Homo sapiens: one gene and its partner. The protein of the gene in region 2 purifies or fractionates together with the protein of the main gene of each other region. This does not show direct contact. Each region holds a gene or a part of one and is shown on either strand. Other genes may lie near its edges.

The links.
Region 1: the proteins of FAM78B (region 2) and VPS13C purify together in Homo sapiens (affinity purification with mass spectrometry; 2 studies listed by BioGRID and IntAct, with this or other methods). This does not show direct contact.

The regions. Positions count from the first base shown.
Region 1 is NC_000015.10:61,959,448-61,966,969, reverse strand, and holds part of VPS13C (intermembrane lipid transfer protein VPS13C), read left to right. Parts: intron 1-827; coding exon 828-887; intron 888-2,108; coding exon 2,109-2,271; intron 2,272-3,018; coding exon 3,019-3,135; intron 3,136-4,117; coding exon 4,118-4,221; intron 4,222-4,431; coding exon 4,432-4,599; intron 4,600-5,076; coding exon 5,077-5,381; intron 5,382-7,374; coding exon 7,375-7,522. UniProt on the Homo sapiens protein: Mediates the transfer of lipids between membranes at organelle contact sites. Necessary for proper mitochondrial function and maintenance of mitochondrial transmembrane potential.
Region 2 is NC_000001.11:166,163,369-166,171,892, reverse strand, and holds the start of FAM78B (protein FAM78B), read left to right. Parts: upstream 1-4,891; 5' UTR 4,892-5,644; coding exon 5,645-5,907; exon of another isoform or gene 5,908-6,016; intron 6,017-8,524.

The DNA of each region.
Region 1 (7,522 bases), on a different chromosome or scaffold from region 2:
TATGAGAAACACTGAAGGAACTGATGGTATTTAGCTGCCTTCAAGATGAATCGATTTGTTTAATCAGTCAGCAGCTATTTATTGAATACTTCTGGATGTGTTTTTGGATGTCTGTACTGTTAGGCGCTTGGGATACAGAAATGAAAAACATTCCCTGTTCTCAAGAAAATTGTAGACGAGTAGGGAGATAACACAAGTAAATAATGATTAGAATATAATGTGATTGATTCCCTAATAAAGAAAAGCACAAAGCATTATTGGAACAGAGGGGCAGGGAAATTGGCAAGGCCAGAAGACTTCTCACAGGAGGTAAATCTTTGAGTTTGAATTTGTTTATGTTCCCAAGGGATAGAAAGAACTAGGACCAATGGTTAGTTATGATGGGAGACAGATTTTTGACTCAATGTGAAGACCTCATTAAATAAAAGCTTTCTAAAGATTAGTTTTGTAAAGAAACAAGGTTTCTTTTACTGGAGATATAAAAAAATGTAGACTTGCTGACGACTTTATGGAGGGATTTAAGCATTAGGGGATAGATGGGCTACGTGACTGTGACACCTTACAACCTTCAGAGTTTGTCATTCTGATTCTTAGCTACAGTTTCCCAGAAATGAATATTCTCCCATGTTTGAAGAGGAGAACACATTTGCACTATTATAATAAATACATTATTTGGATGTAAATTTAAAATAATGGCAATAAAATTAAATATACAGTGTATATAAAATACATTTATAACTATAAATAAATTAACCAGAGATAATAAATAAGTGATTTATTTACTTCGATCCTAGTACCTTCTTTAGAACTTTTACTTCTTTTTTCAGGCTGATAAGAATGGACCTAGTTTTCAAACTGCTTTTGGAAAAACTGAACAAACAGTTAAGGTAAGAAATTCTGTTAAAGGAATTTATCCTGTTTGAAAATAACCTAGTCTCAAAGCCTCTAGTATCCTTTGAGGAGTATTGACTAGGTAATTTGATGACATAATCAAGGACCAATAAGAGTTATAAATAACCTCATCGATACTTACCATGCTCTGTGTTTATGATTCAGCTTAGTAAAGCTGTTTTGTTATATCACATCCTAGCGTCCTTAAAAGTTTCAGTATTATTTCTAAATTAGGGAATGCTGTAGACAAAAGAACTTTGATGTACAAAGAACTAAAAGGTTTCTAAACTAGCCAAACTAGATACCATTGTTTGATGTACAGGTGAAAAAGTGTATAAAATATAAGGAGACATGTTGAGCACTTTTGAAGTCAAAGCACTACTTACGTAGTAGCTTAGAGTAAGAGGGGCAAAATGTACTTATGGGTAACTAAAAAGAAAAGGAGAGAGGCGAGTTTTAGCTCACACTTTTTTGAGAGATGGGGAAATCTGTTTTAATATTGTGAACCTTTTATTGTTTTTATATCCATTTAGTGTTATGAGAAAATGAAAAGAAATTCATTTTTATAAACAGAGCTTTTTATTTTATATTAATTTGCTATTAGAAAACTACCCATTCTTGAAATCAATTTGTATTGCTATTTTAGCTTCCTAGAGTGATTGCTTTAAAAAAAGTAGTACTTTTCCCCTACAAGTTCTATATTGTGTTTCTTTTTAAATGATAACACCATTATTGTGATTTGAAAAGGTCACTTAGTAACCCATTCATAATTGTCCTTTTTATATTTAAATTTCACGGATGCCACCTTTGAAGTCATTTCTAGACATAGTAGTAGCACATGGTGGTTCTGGGATTTCGCCTTTTGACTTATAATTTTATATAATCATAATTGTCCATTGAAGATCCAAGAAGCCGTCTGTATGTTGAATATCAGCATAGCCATGAGAAGCAGAGTATAGACTTCATAACCATTATGCTTTGGAAATGGAGTAATTAGGTTACTGTAATATTCTGATGTACCCCTGAAGTGTATAAGTGTAATTTTTCTCTGTATATTCCCTTTTTAAGGGGATTGTGAATCTTCCACTTTTTACTCTTCCTTCAGAGTGGTGGAAAGCAATGATGTAAGCCCACCTGAGAATCTTTTGGGTCTGTCGTGGAGACTACAGGTTATAATTGGCTGTGGAAAACTAATTTTCTCTTTAAAACATTTTTAGGTGGCCTTTTCATCTTTAAATCTGTTGCTGCAAACACAAGCTCTTGTCGCTTCTATTAATTACCTCACAACCATTATTCCATCTGATGATCAAAGCATAAGTGTTGCTAAGGAGGTACAAATTTCAACTGAAAAACAACAAAAAAATTCAACTCTGCCAAAAGGTATGAAACATACATTTTTGTTTTTTGTTAGCAAGGGTTTTAGAATTCTAAAGCTAAATGAGGAATACTAGAGACTATCTGACTCAGTCATTTAAATACCATTTTCCCCTTTTCTTCAAATTAAATTATATGCGAGCACCTGATGTATAAGGCAAATGTAATCAATACTGTTGTTTTTAAAAATGTTTCTTTTAGTTCTTATTTTGGTGGTGGTGTAGGAAGCCCTTAGGTAGGTAATAGGGGGAGAAGATCTGTATTTATACTGAGCTCTTCCTCCCCGCTCAGTGGCTCCTGAAGGGGCTTTATAAAGAGTTAGTCTTTCTTTCCATTTTACACATAAGGAAATTAAGGCTCAGAGACACAAAGGTAGGGAAGGGTTCAGGAGTAGCATCTAATTGGCCAAGAGCCCAGATTTTGGATCAGGAAGAACTCAGTTCACATCCTGATTTTGCTACTTCAACCATGTAACCTTAGACACATTATTTAACTTTTCTGAGGTTCAGTGTCCTTATTTATTTATTGTAGTTTTTTCTCTTGCTTTTAAATTATAAAAGTAATATCTCACTATTAAAAATGCAAACTTTACAGAATATATAAAGCAAAAAAAGTGTTTGAATCTTTAAGAGTTGGAGAATGTTATAATTTTTTTTAACATAACAGTGGTTCACTTAATATAGCGAATAAACCTTAAAAGAATGTAGATGACTAGAATCTCACCATGTGACAGATGCTTTGTTTTATTTTTAGCGATTGTATCCTCCAGAGATAGTGACATTATTGATTTCAGGCTATTTGCCAAGTTGAATGCTTTCTGTGTCATTGTTTGCAACGAAAAGAACAATATCGCCGAAATCAAGATTCAAGGTAAAAGTTCACACGGCATTGAAAATTGGCGAAAAGATAAACTTTTCCTTCTTTTTGTCTCTTTGCAATGCTAAAGAATGTACAAATAAAGGGCTCTAAGCTGTGAAACCTGAAAAGACGTAATTGGATTGTATGCTTCCTCTATTTGGGATATAGATATTGGTCAGAATCTGACCATCCCAATTGACCTCTACACATATCCTGGTGTTTGGGACCTTCCTGAGAGTTATCTAGGAAGTGGAAAAGGGATACTGATGTCAATGTAGGAATGCTATTGATGGGCTAGGAGAAGTGTCAGTCTAGATTTTAGGTGAAGGTCTGTGGACGTGCTTTCTAGTAACTTTTTAATCTTTTTTTTTTACCTTCATATGATTTTTATATATAATTATGTATTTGTCTTTATTTGTCTTTCCTTATGAAAAGCAATCTTATAATGGTGACAATATCTATGAGCCCATTATGTTCTTTTAGGTAAAAGCTGCCAAAACTCATCTAGCTTTTCCTCTGGCTTACTTTTACTAGCTTGTTGTGACCTGGTAGAGGTCAAGAATATGTTGAATATGTTTAATGAAATTTTTTAAGAACTTAAAAACTAGAAAACTAGGGGCTTTTTTCCTTTGTCCTTTCCAAACTGGCAGCGCATCTACTAGTCTGAATTTGATTTGTGAAACTTTTATAGTTTCCATGTAAATGACTGGATATAAGGTATAAAGGATAATTTACTTAAATCCTGAGATAATCTATTTGTACTAGATGTATTTCTTCCCCTGATTGAAAAGTCACATAATCATTGTTTAATGAATTTATAGGTTTTGGTGTTTATAAAACCAAAAAACTCTAATATTGCAACTTATTTATCCATTGGGAGTTGAAACATTGCTAAATTTAAAAAAGTCACCCCAAAATAAAATAATGTAATGGAAAGAAAGATCTTATTTATGGTAGGTCTGTAGAAATTATAATAATACACTCTTTTTTTCAGGACTGGATTCCTCCCTTTCTCTCCAGTCAAGAAAGCAGTCACTTTTTGCCCGACTAGAAAATATTATTGTCACAGATGTTGATCCAAAGACAGTTCATAAGAAAGTAGGTGATTGTAAACAGATAGTTAATATTCTTTAATGACTGAATATGAGCTTCTATTGTAAAATGTATTTTATTTTAAAAACATTAATGAAATATATTTCAATAGAAAAATTTTTTTATAAAGATTATAAATGTAAAGCCTTTTGTAAATGAGATTTTATTTTGTCATTACCTTCCCGGATAGAGTACATTCAAGTCTCTGTTTTTCAGGCTGTGTCAATAATGGGAAATGAAGTTTTCCGTTTTAATTTGGATTTGTATCCAGATGCTACTGAGGGGGATTTGTATACTGACATGTCCAAAGTGGATGGTGTGCTGTCTCTGAATGTTGGCTGTATTCAGATTGTCTATCTTCATAAATTCCTTATGTCACTTCTGGTAAAATAATTATTTGTATATTGATTTTTCAACTTTGAAATATTTTAAAAGTGTGATAATTATGATGGCAAATGTTATAAACCTTGGATTTTAGAGTGGGCATTATTTTAATTATATTTATGCGTGAATGTAGAGATCAAAACCCCTATTTAACAGTTGAAAAGTGAATCATTTAATGATTTTTGTCTAGAACAAATTATTTTTGCTACAATATAATGAAGCCAGATTCTTTAGTATAAAAATTATTGGAAAAAAATTTTTCTCTGTTCCTTAACCATATAACATTAGCTCAGTTCAGGCAGCTCATAGTTATAGATGGATTATCCGTAATTTCTTAATACTGCTAGAAAAATAGGGCTCAATGGAAAGTTAAATATTGGAAAAAAAAAGTTACCACATGTATGAAAAGAAGATAGTGTTATTATTGATGTGCCTGTATTCTCTTTGAATTTCTCTTTTTATGCTTTGTGTCCACAGAACTTCCTGAATAATTTCCAGACAGCCAAAGAGTCTCTGAGTGCTGCCACTGCCCAGGCTGCAGAAAGGGCTGCCACAAGTGTGAAAGATCTTGCCCAGAGGAGTTTTCGTGTTTCCATCAATATTGATTTGAAAGCACCGGTTATAGTCATCCCACAGTCTTCTATTTCCACCAATGCAGTAGTGGTAGATCTTGGGTTAATCAGAGTTCATAATCAGTTCAGTCTGGTGTCTGATGAAGACTACTTAAATCCTCCAGTAATTGATAGAATGGATGTGCAGCTAACAAAGCTTACACTTTATAGGTATGCTCTTTCAATAATTATGGATTTAAATATTATATTCATGATTTCCATGAAATTTTATGACTTGAAATTCCTACCCAACACAGTTTATTCAAATAAACTGTTCCATTACACGGAACAGTTTTTTTTATTGTTGTCATTGTTTTGTGTGTGTGTGTGTGTGTGTGTGTGTGTGTGTGTGTGTGTGTGTGTGTTTTGAGTTGGAGTCTTGGTCTGTCACCCAGGATGGAGTGCAGTGGCGTGATCTCGGCTCACTGCAACCTCTGCCTCCTGGGTTCAAGCAATCCTCCTGCCTCAGCCTCCCGAGTAGCTGGGACTATAGACATGTGCTACCATGCCTGGCTAATTTTTTTTGTATTTTTAATAGAAATGGGGTTTCACCATGTTGGCCAGGCTGGTCTCAAACTCCTCACCTCAGGTGATCCACCTGCTTTGGACCCCCAAAGTGCTGGGATTACAGGTGTGAGCCACCGCGCCTGGCCCAGAAGAGTTTTTTATTTTGTGTTTTGAGATGAAGTCTTGCTCTGTCGCCCAGGCTGGAGTGCAATGGTGCAGTCTTGGCTCACTGCAACTTCTGCATCCTGGATTCAAGTGATTCTCCTGCCTCAGCCTCCTGAGTAACTGGGACTATAGGCACGTGCCATCATGCCTGGCTAATTTTTTTGTATTTTTCGTTATAGAGATGGGGTTTCACCATGTTGGCCAGGCTAGTCTCAAACTCCTGATATCAGGTGTTCTGCCCATCTTGGCCTCCCAAAGTGCTGAGATTACAGGCATGAGCCATCGCACCAGGCCACCAGAACAGTTTTTTAATCAACTTTTGTTTTAAAAAATTTCAGACCTACAGAAAAATGGAAAAAAATAGTACTGTGAATGCACCTACATATCCTTCATCTAGATTCACCAGTTGTTTATATTTGCTTTAACCTATCTATAAACATATACATATTATTTAAAACATTTTTTGCTAAATCATTTGAGAATAGACATCTTTAACTTTTTGTCCCTAAATACTTTATCATATGTCTCCTATAAACAAGGACATTCATTCTCTTATATTAACTATGATATAATTCTAGAAATTTAATATCGATGTAATACTATAATCTGAAATTCAGTCAATATTCAGATTTTACCAGTTGTCCCATTATAATAATTCGCATTATAGGAATGTCCATTATAAAAATTTCTCCCTGATTCAGGATCACCCATAGCGTATAATTGTATTCTGTACTATTGAGGAAGATTTCTGTACTGACAGAAATTTATTTTGGAGTAGTTCTTCAGCTTTTCTTTGTCTTTTTATGACTACATGACTACTACTGTAGTTTTGAAGACTACAGTCCGGTTCCACTCACCTCTCAATTTGGTTGTGTCTGAGTGATTCCTCATGGTTTGATTGAACTTACACATTTTTGGCAGGCATGTTGTGTAAATTATTTTGTATCTTCAGTGCTCATACCAGGTGGCACATGAAATCTGTACATAATTCATTTTAAAATTATTTTCTACCCCATCCATGAAGATTTAATTATGTAGAATAAAAAATTAATGACTACAAGGCAAGTCTAGAAAATAATCCTAGAGAAAACCTTTATGAAATGCCTTGGAAAATGCTAACTCCTCTTGTTCACTTTGCCATCATTTTCTTCAGTCTCTGCACCAACATACCTATTAATCCTTGAACAACTGTATATGATGATTTTCTGTATTTCTTCAATGGTGTGGATTGCTTTTAAAAACTTATTCAATTTTTCACCTATCTACTGTTTAAAGAAAAAAGTTTTCTTAATGGTTCATTGTATATCACCTTTTAATTTGTCCCTTCTAGTGGATTATAGATTAATTATAGGTTCAGTTTTGAAAATACTCAAGCCACACTGTTTCAGATCAGTATTTAGAGCAGCAAATAACTGCTTGACTTTGCTTTTTTTTAATATGTTGCATTTCTACCCTATATCTATGCATTATGTAACATTTCTGTTTTTCGTAGGACAGTGATCCAGCCAGGCATCTACCATCCTGATATTCAGCTGTTGCACCCAATTAACTTGGAATTTCTTGTAAATCGGAATCTAGCTGCATCTTGGTACCACAAGGTGCCTGTTGTGGAAATTAAAGGACATCTTGATTCAATGAAT
Region 2 (8,524 bases):
AGGATACAGCAGTACATCCAAATGAAAACATCTAGCAGGCAGATGGGTCTGCTGACCTTGAGTTCAGGAGAAATGCTGGGCTGGCAAGACAAACTTGGAAGACATCCATGAAAAATACCAGTTAAAACATGGATAAATACCCTGAGGGAGTTCAGGAAGAAGAGGGGAGACCCTTAGGAAGTATGACCCTGGAAAATGAGGAAAGCAAGAGGAGTCAGAGAAGCTAAGAGAAGAATCAGGATTTGCAGAATCACGGGATTAAAAGTAGTTTTCTTTCAAGAGTGCCAAATCTGACAGATCAGGACAGAGAAAAGGACTTTGAAAGCAGCAGAGATAGGCACAGCAGACCTACAACAGAATAGCTGAGGAACCAAGGTATCCTTCTTCATAGTTTCTGTGGCCTAATCTAATGCAAGGCTAGTGGAAAAAGCTTGATAAATATTGACTACTTGAACCACACAATAGCTGCCACATCTTGGGCTGAATGACTTCTGCAAAGTGCCTGAGTCCCTTGCCATATTCCACTCCATGTTGAGTTTCTTAGCCTGTTCTAGAAGAGAAATTAGTAACCCTGGCTCTGAAGTAGTGGTAGGGAGAGCTCACAATCAAGAAGGAGCTGTTTCCTCAATCCTGCAGTCTTGGGCCTGAGGCTAACCTCTTGCCTGTCTTTGGGCCATCTAAGTGAGACGGAAATCCATGTCTGTTTTTAACAGCTCCAGAGGCAATTCCTCAACATCTCTTGGTAGTCTGTTCTATAGTCTCTGAAAACCCTTGCCAAGGTCAACTAGAAAATAGGCCCTTGTGACCCAGAGTTTCTAAAAAGCTCACTTGACAAATTGAGTAATGAGTCAATCAAGAGGAAAAATAAAGTCAGAGATCACCCTGCTTCTGGAAGGACCGAGTCATCTACAGCTAAAGGAGTGGATTGTAAAGGGGACACAGAGGCCAACATCCTGGAGAGTGCACAGCACAGCTCTAACTCAGGGAACTGAGGAGCTCTGTCATGCCCAAGAACATCAGAAGCTTGAAGTACAAAGGATCATTTGTTCTGTGCCCTGAGAATGAACTCCAATGAAGTTATTCACAAGGAATGATTGTTGTCAAGGTCTTGTCATTGGAGCTTTCCCATTTTCGTGGTGTCTAGAACTGATAACCCTTGAGATCATGTATAGTGCTCGAAGACAAAGGGCATCACTTAACATCAAGGAGCCACATTAAGAAAAGAGTGGGGGGACAAAGAGGTACAGTGCAGAAAGAATTAGAATAAAAACATATGCTTGCTGCAGGTATTGAGACAGAGCTTATAGGGAAGCTTATAGGGAATGTCAAGGGTCCATGTCTGTGAATCATGTTACATTTTATTGGCATTCTACTAAATATGATGTATGGGAAATGTTGTATTGGATTTTTAAGAATACTTTTAGTCATTCAAATGTTTATTGAGCAGCACCTAGGTGCCACGCACTAGGCTGGGCAACAGGGCACGATGGTGCATTCTCTTGAGGAGTGAACAGCTTATTGGGAGAGACAAGTGTGAGCAAGGAACTGTGAAACAGCTTTAAAGGTGTTAATAGAAGCAAGGGACTTACCATGAGGAGACAGAAAGAGAAACTTAGAAGAGCAGCACAGAGAAACTGTTGCAAATTCTGGGGATTTCATTTGAGCTACAGATAGCCCTGCATTGGCATTTGCAGACTGAATATGCATGAATGATAAAAACCCCCAGTGAGTAATCCAAAAGGTCCCTGTCATGAGGTAATTTGCTGAGACACAAATTTGAATGGGGCTGCCAGGAGGCCAGAGTGTACTTGCCAGCCACTCAGCTAGTGAATGACCACTCCTAACACTGGCATTTGTGTCCCAGTACCACTTAGCTCTCCTTACTTTCTCATCGACATCCGCACAATAATTCTCATACTGTGATCAATTTTTTCTTCACAGAGTCAGGGAAATAGGGCGTTAATAAGGTAAAGATATAAGGTAATGAAGTAAGAAGTTTATTTTAATGGCAAAATTTATTTAAGTAGCTTTAGAAATTACTTTGGCCCCATATTCATAGAACCATTAAGAGTCTAAAAAGATTCTTTACATTTTTCAGCTACACTTTACCGTACTTTATGGTGGAAATTATATGCCATGATGACATTCATGATTTTGGAGACTCACCAAGGTCATGGATGAACCCTCTGAGAATGTCAAGGGTCCAAGTCCATGAATAATGTTACATTTTATTGGCTTTACTAAATATAACAAAATCTTATTTTAAGTTTGAAAAATAAGATATTCTTCCTTATGTGATTTCCCTATATTTTGGGAAAGGCTGCCATTCCCCTCCCCGTTTATGAAGGTTTAACATGTGTCACCAGAAGACAAAGGAGTTATTTATCCACAAAACTGCAGCCTGACAAGCAACTCAAATTAAGAAACATAACTACATTCCCCAATGAAATGCTTTCCTTTTGGTCTATTGCCTGGAACCTAATAACCACTGAAACTCAAACTCTGACCCCACCCTGCCCCCCAAATACCTCCAAGAACCTCGAACTTAACATGACATCACCCACAGTCCCAAGCTGCTTCCCCTTCTATCACCTTGTTCAGTTACCAAGTAAATACATTTACCTCCTAAGTGATTCTTAAATGCAAATGCAGCCAGGCCTCTCCAGCCCCACAGCACTGCCCCAAGCTAGCCGAGGGTCAAAGTATCTGTCATCACAATATTCTGAAACGCTGCCTCCTCTATTCTCTATATGGATGCAGAGTAATTTTTCTCAAAATGCATGGCTTGCCTTCATTGGCTTCCACTGAAGTTTAAGATAAGGTCCTATCAAGAGAAGACACTGGGCCCTACTAGAGGGTGAAGGGTAGGAGGAGGCAGAGGATAAAAAAAAAATACCTATTGGGTACTATCCTCATTACCAGGGTGATAAAATAATCTGTCCAACAAACCCCTATGACATGCAATTTACCTATATAACAAACCTGCACCTGTACCTCTGAACCTAAAAGTTAAAAAAATTATTCACCAAACCCAGTGATCAAGGTTAATAACACCAGTAAAAAGTCATATTGCTATCATGTACCCCTGACATAATGCAATGAGAAGGCACTTCATCTTCATGGTATTCATCCCCCAAATCCAAAACCCTGGTCTAATCATGAGGAAACATCAGATAAATGCAAATGAGGAACAATTCTACAGAATATCTGACCAGTCCTCTTTAAAAATGTCAAGGTCATGAAAAACAGAGAAAGACTGAGAAGCTGTCACAGATTGAGAAGAATAAGGAGATGTAATGACTAAATGCAACATCATATCTTGGATTAGATTCTAGAGAAAAAAAGACATTAGTGGAAAAACTAGTAAAATCAAAATAAAGTCTGTAGTCTTAATTTTAAAAAGAAAAAAGATATGGTCTATCAACAACCAATTGATTCTTGGACAGTGATTCTGATGCCCATGGTCGACACATAACACCTTGAGAAATGCCTTGACTGTGAGTTGTTTCTCCCCCTCAGTACAGGATGAGTTCTTTCATATCTCTATGCATTTTGCATTTGCCAAATGCTGGTCCTGTACTACTCATTCACCTTTCTCTTTTCAGTGAGACTCTACAGTCTGTCAGTATTCAATTTAAATGTCACTACTTGAGCAAAGTCACACGTAAATCTCTCAGTGGCCAGAGAGCCACTGAGTGGCTCTCTGACCACTGAGGGATTTACATGTGGCCAGAGATTTACATGTCTGGCCTTCCACGGCACTGGATACACAACCCCACTAAAGCAGGTGTCACAGTTTACTATAATAACTTGTTAACAGGTTTATTTTCTCCAGTGATCCATGTGCTCTTTTTCAACTTTGAATCCCTAGTACCTAGCACTATGTTTGGCTCCTGCCAGGCAGGCAGTCAGCCTTTGCTGAATGAAAGGACCAGTGATTGAGGTCTGTGGCTACACGGTAAAATGAGAGAGACGAGTCATCAAAGGGAAAAACTGCTTTTTTGTTAACTATAAAGTGAACCAAGGTGTCAGAACAGTTAAAACAAGGATGAAGAGTGCTTTTAGATCTCAATCAATTTTTAAATTACTCGTCACACCTGTCCTAGCTAAAGACTAACTCTAGCACCTCCTGCGGCCTGTTAGTCAGTATTTCACACTTGGGCAGCAGATCCAGCAAATGTTCAATGATCGCAGAAGAAATACTTAGAAGCTATTGGCTTTGAAAATAAAAATGTAAGAAGATGCCTAGTAAAAGCATCTGCTAAATATTCTTCCTGTTTGGCACATTAGACTGCAGTATCAGACACATGACCGTGGTCATACTGTACACAATGCCCAATGTCTGCCAAAACTCTGGCATATGAGAGACTTAGTGCTGGAGTACGGAGGGATTCTTCCGGTATCCCCACTACACACAGTGGTGGAAAGAAGAGCTTCCAGAACAAACCCAGTCAGGCAAAGAGGCAAATACACTGCATTTAGTAACGCTGCTGGAGCCCGCCCTTCACCCTTTCTGAAGGTAGGATACTAAAAGGGCTCAAGCCTAAATCTAATCCAACAAGCTATATTCTGAATAACGACCAATCTCTGATAAAGCTGTTCCCCTAACCCTTCTGCTGCCCGAAACACTCACTCTACAGCCCCTACTGGGCTACCGGGTTCCCCACTGGACTCTGGACAGCGCCGCGCCCTGCTCGGCCTCACCCACCCGGTGGCGCTTGGGCCCGCCCTAGTCCCCCACCCCCACCCCAGGGCACCACCTACCAGGGCCCCGCCCCGCCTCAGCCCCACGTGCGGGGCCCCACCCCGGCGCTAGCGGCCCTTTAAACACCCCCACCCTTACACATTACCCCCCCCCCACCCGGACGGCAGCCGAATAGGGACAAAACTCATGGCGTACAGCCAGTTTCCTCCGCGGAGCACGTCCTGTGCTGCTCCAGCCGTTGGGGCTCTCCACCCCGGGCCACAGCCTCCTGGCGCCCCCCGGGCCGAGGCAGCCGGGCCGAGGAGTGTCGGTGTGGTCCGGCTACGGGGCGGGGCCGGCGGGAGCTCCGGTCGCCGCCGCCGCCGCTGCTGCCTCCGCCTGCCTCTTGGGCCGCCCGCTCGCCCGCCGCTGGGTGCGCTGCACGCGGGGGGCAGCCGTGGTGCAGAGGTTCATGCAGCGGCGGCGGCGGCGGCGGCTGCTGCTGCTGCCGCCGCGGAGGCAGACAGACCGGGCGCTGCCACCGCCGCCCTCCCCCGGCTCCATGCCGCCGCCGCTGCCGCCTCCTCCTCTCCGGCGAGGGGCGGGGGGCTCCGGCCCGGGGTGGGCACCATTCCTCGCAGCGCCGCTCCCCTCCCTGCCCTCCGCCCGGGCGCTGGAGCCGGCGAGGGCACCCGCCGCCTCCTAGGAGTGCACCCTCCGCGCGCCCTGCCGGAGCGAGGGGGCGGGCGTGGGCGGACGTCGGGGCAGCGGGGACCCCGCGCGGCTGCAAGAGGAGGGGGCTTCCCCAAGGATGCCCGGCGGCTCCCCGCTCCTAGGTGCGAGCTGAGTCTGACCGGGAGCGAGCGGCGCGTCGCCATGCCGGCGTGACGGGCGCCCCCGGCTGCCCGCGCGGGCCCCCGCGCTGCCCCACGCCGCGCCGTGCCGGCACCGGGCTGCAGGATGGGCTGTATCCAAAGCATCACCTGCAAGGCGCGGATCCGGCGCGAGAACATCGTGGTGTACGATGTGTGCGCCACCATCGACCAGTGCCCCACGCGCATCGAGGAGACCTCGCCCATCGTCCTGCGCTACAAGACCCCCTACTTCAAAGCCTCCGCCCGCGTGGTCATGCCCCCCATCCCCCGCCACGAGACCTGGGTGGTGGGCTGGATTCAGGCGTGCAATCAGATGGAGTTCTTCAACACCTACAGCGACCTGGGCATGTAAGCGACTCGCCGCGCGGCACGGGAGCGGACTCTGGGCCCCCAGCTCTGCTTGCCACCTTGACCCCCCTCCCCAGCTCCTTCCTACTGCTGTCCCCATCGTCTTTCTAAACCTTCCTCCCGCCTCCTCTCCCACCTCCCTCCTCCCTACGCTTTTGTTTCAGTGACAGGGCGGGTGTAGGGAGGCTCCTTGCGAAGGCATTTTCTCGTGGTTTGCTTCTGACTTCCCAGAAACGCGAGGAGAAAGGTGCGGGGCGGGAAGAACGCGACAAGGAGGGTTCGAGAGGCGGAGGTGGGGATGGCTGGCGAGTGCCTGGCGAGTTTCAGGGCGCCGTCTGTGCTTTGTGGGGCTCCCCGGGAAGAGTTTGGGGGAAACCATAGAGGAGTGGAGTGGAGTGCCGGGGGCGCATGGGCTGTGCCGCGCGTCCTTTGGAGAAACCGGAGCGGGCTTGGAAGAGCAGGTCCCGGGCATCCGAGCGGGAGTTGGTAGTTCTGTCCTTGCCCTCGCGACTGTTGAAGTTTCGAACCCTTGTCCCCCGGGCCAGGGAGCCCGGAGGCGTTTCCGTCTGGAACCACAAGCCGGACACAGTTGCCTCTCTGTTTCCGCGCCCCCTGGACCAGTTCTGGTGGGGAGCTGGAAGGCACCGAGTGCGTCCCGGCCAAGAAGGGCGGATAGCCTTGTGCGAGCAGCGTTCGGCTGGCGCGGCGCGGGGTGTTTCTTATGCTAAAGGAAAGGATGGATCTCTTGTCTGTCTAGGGTCCTTACTTTTTAAAACTTTCCTAATTGCGGCACTGGAAGGGATTCCCCTGGCGCCCACCGCCGAATTCTATCGGCGAGCTGGGAGCTCTCCAACTTTCAGCAGCGCCGGTTGGTGCGCGCCGGGCTTGGCTGCTGCGGTGAAGACCAAGGATCGCCGCGGCTCCTCAACCGCCAGGGGCCGCAGGCTACGGGCGGTCGCGTCCGGGACTTTTATATTTACCAAATTTTCATAACTCCGCACCCGCCTCCTTTCAGAACTAGACTCTGAGCAGGTGGCAACGACAATAGCTAAAAGGTTTAGGGCCTGCCTTCTACCTGCTGTTACAATGTAGGTCTAGAACACCCTAATTAGCCAGTCTGCAGCCTACAGGGAAACCCTTTTTCTGGAAATTCAACCTCATTTCACTTATTAATCTAAAACTCTAGAGCTCCCAAGGTTCGTCTATTTAATATGGATATGGGGTGGGGGAGTTCCCATTTTAAAAGGTCAAACCATCTTTTTAGCAGCAGTTTGCAGGCTTTTTATTGCACTCTGAGAGCATGTCAGTTAACACTAGTCATAGGCGCTAAAAGAAATTTGACAGGTCGTTGTTTTCCTTTTTTCCTCCCAAAGATTTTGCACTTTTCTCTTTAAGCACAAAAGCTTAATCCTTGAGAAAACTCAATTCCTAGTGAAGAAATGTGAGGCCCAGTTTCCAATATGCCTCAGCACACTGTATTCTTCCAGAGAAGACAGCTAGATGTGAGAAATGGGGGATATTTTATTTGGGGCGAATCATGCCATTTAAAAACTGACATACCCTCAAAAGAATGATTATATGTGAACACATGTGTCTCTTAAAACTGCTTTTTAAAATAAATCCATTGTTTCCAGCCAAGTCAGAGAAAGCCACAGGCAGGGCAAGAGCCCTTCCTCTCATTTCCCTGGCCTCACCCTGATGGCAGTGGGTTGCTGGAGGACAGCAAGTGCTCCCCACAGCAGCCTGGGGCCCCTGGTAGAGGAAGCCAGGAGTGACTGTGCAGAAGCAGCCTCACTTTTCCCAAGACTGCACAGCGGAACTCTCTGTTGCCTCAAATCTCTTATGAATAAGTAAAAGCAAATATATAAATACAGAATTATTTCCGTAAAACTTACTTTACCTTAGGAGAAGTCAAGTTGAGATATAAACAGACATGGTAGTTGAACTTCCTGGAATCTATAGGGAAGGTATGTCCTCACTGGAACCAACTTTAATGGATATGAATCAGTGACAGGATTCCTGACCCTTCCCCACTGAATCCTTGCATTTGGGATTTGGAAAGTGGTTTTGTTTTTAAACTGCCACTTTTGATATTTTAAGATTCTTGGTTTTCATGTAGATGTAGGAGAGCAAAAATAGACCCCCAATAAATCATAAAGCATATTATTATAGATTTGTGTCCACAGTCTACCTGTTTCTTCATGGTTGCAATAATTGCTATGTGTTAAAGGCCACTTTGGAGCCCAAATTTGAATGAACCAATTTCCACAAGATATTTATGCCTGGAAAATTTTGCTAGTGTAAACTTTTTAATGGGAATTCATATTGCATGAAAGTTGCTGCAGTCTATTAGTTATTATGTCTACTTTAGCCAATATCTGGATTGTAAAAAATAGCATGGAGTGATTTTTCACCTCTGTGCAGTGTTCTGTCACATGAACCACAATATGGTGAAAGGGTTTGGATTAGAAAACTGCCTTTTCAATATTTTGAAAAGGATTGTGCCAGAGGAAATCCACAACATAAAATGGCAAGAAACTCCTGTTTACAGGATTGAAAGAAAGCCTGAGGTTTTGTGGTTTAAATTGTAAACTTTTCCAAGAAGGGGTAGGCTTCT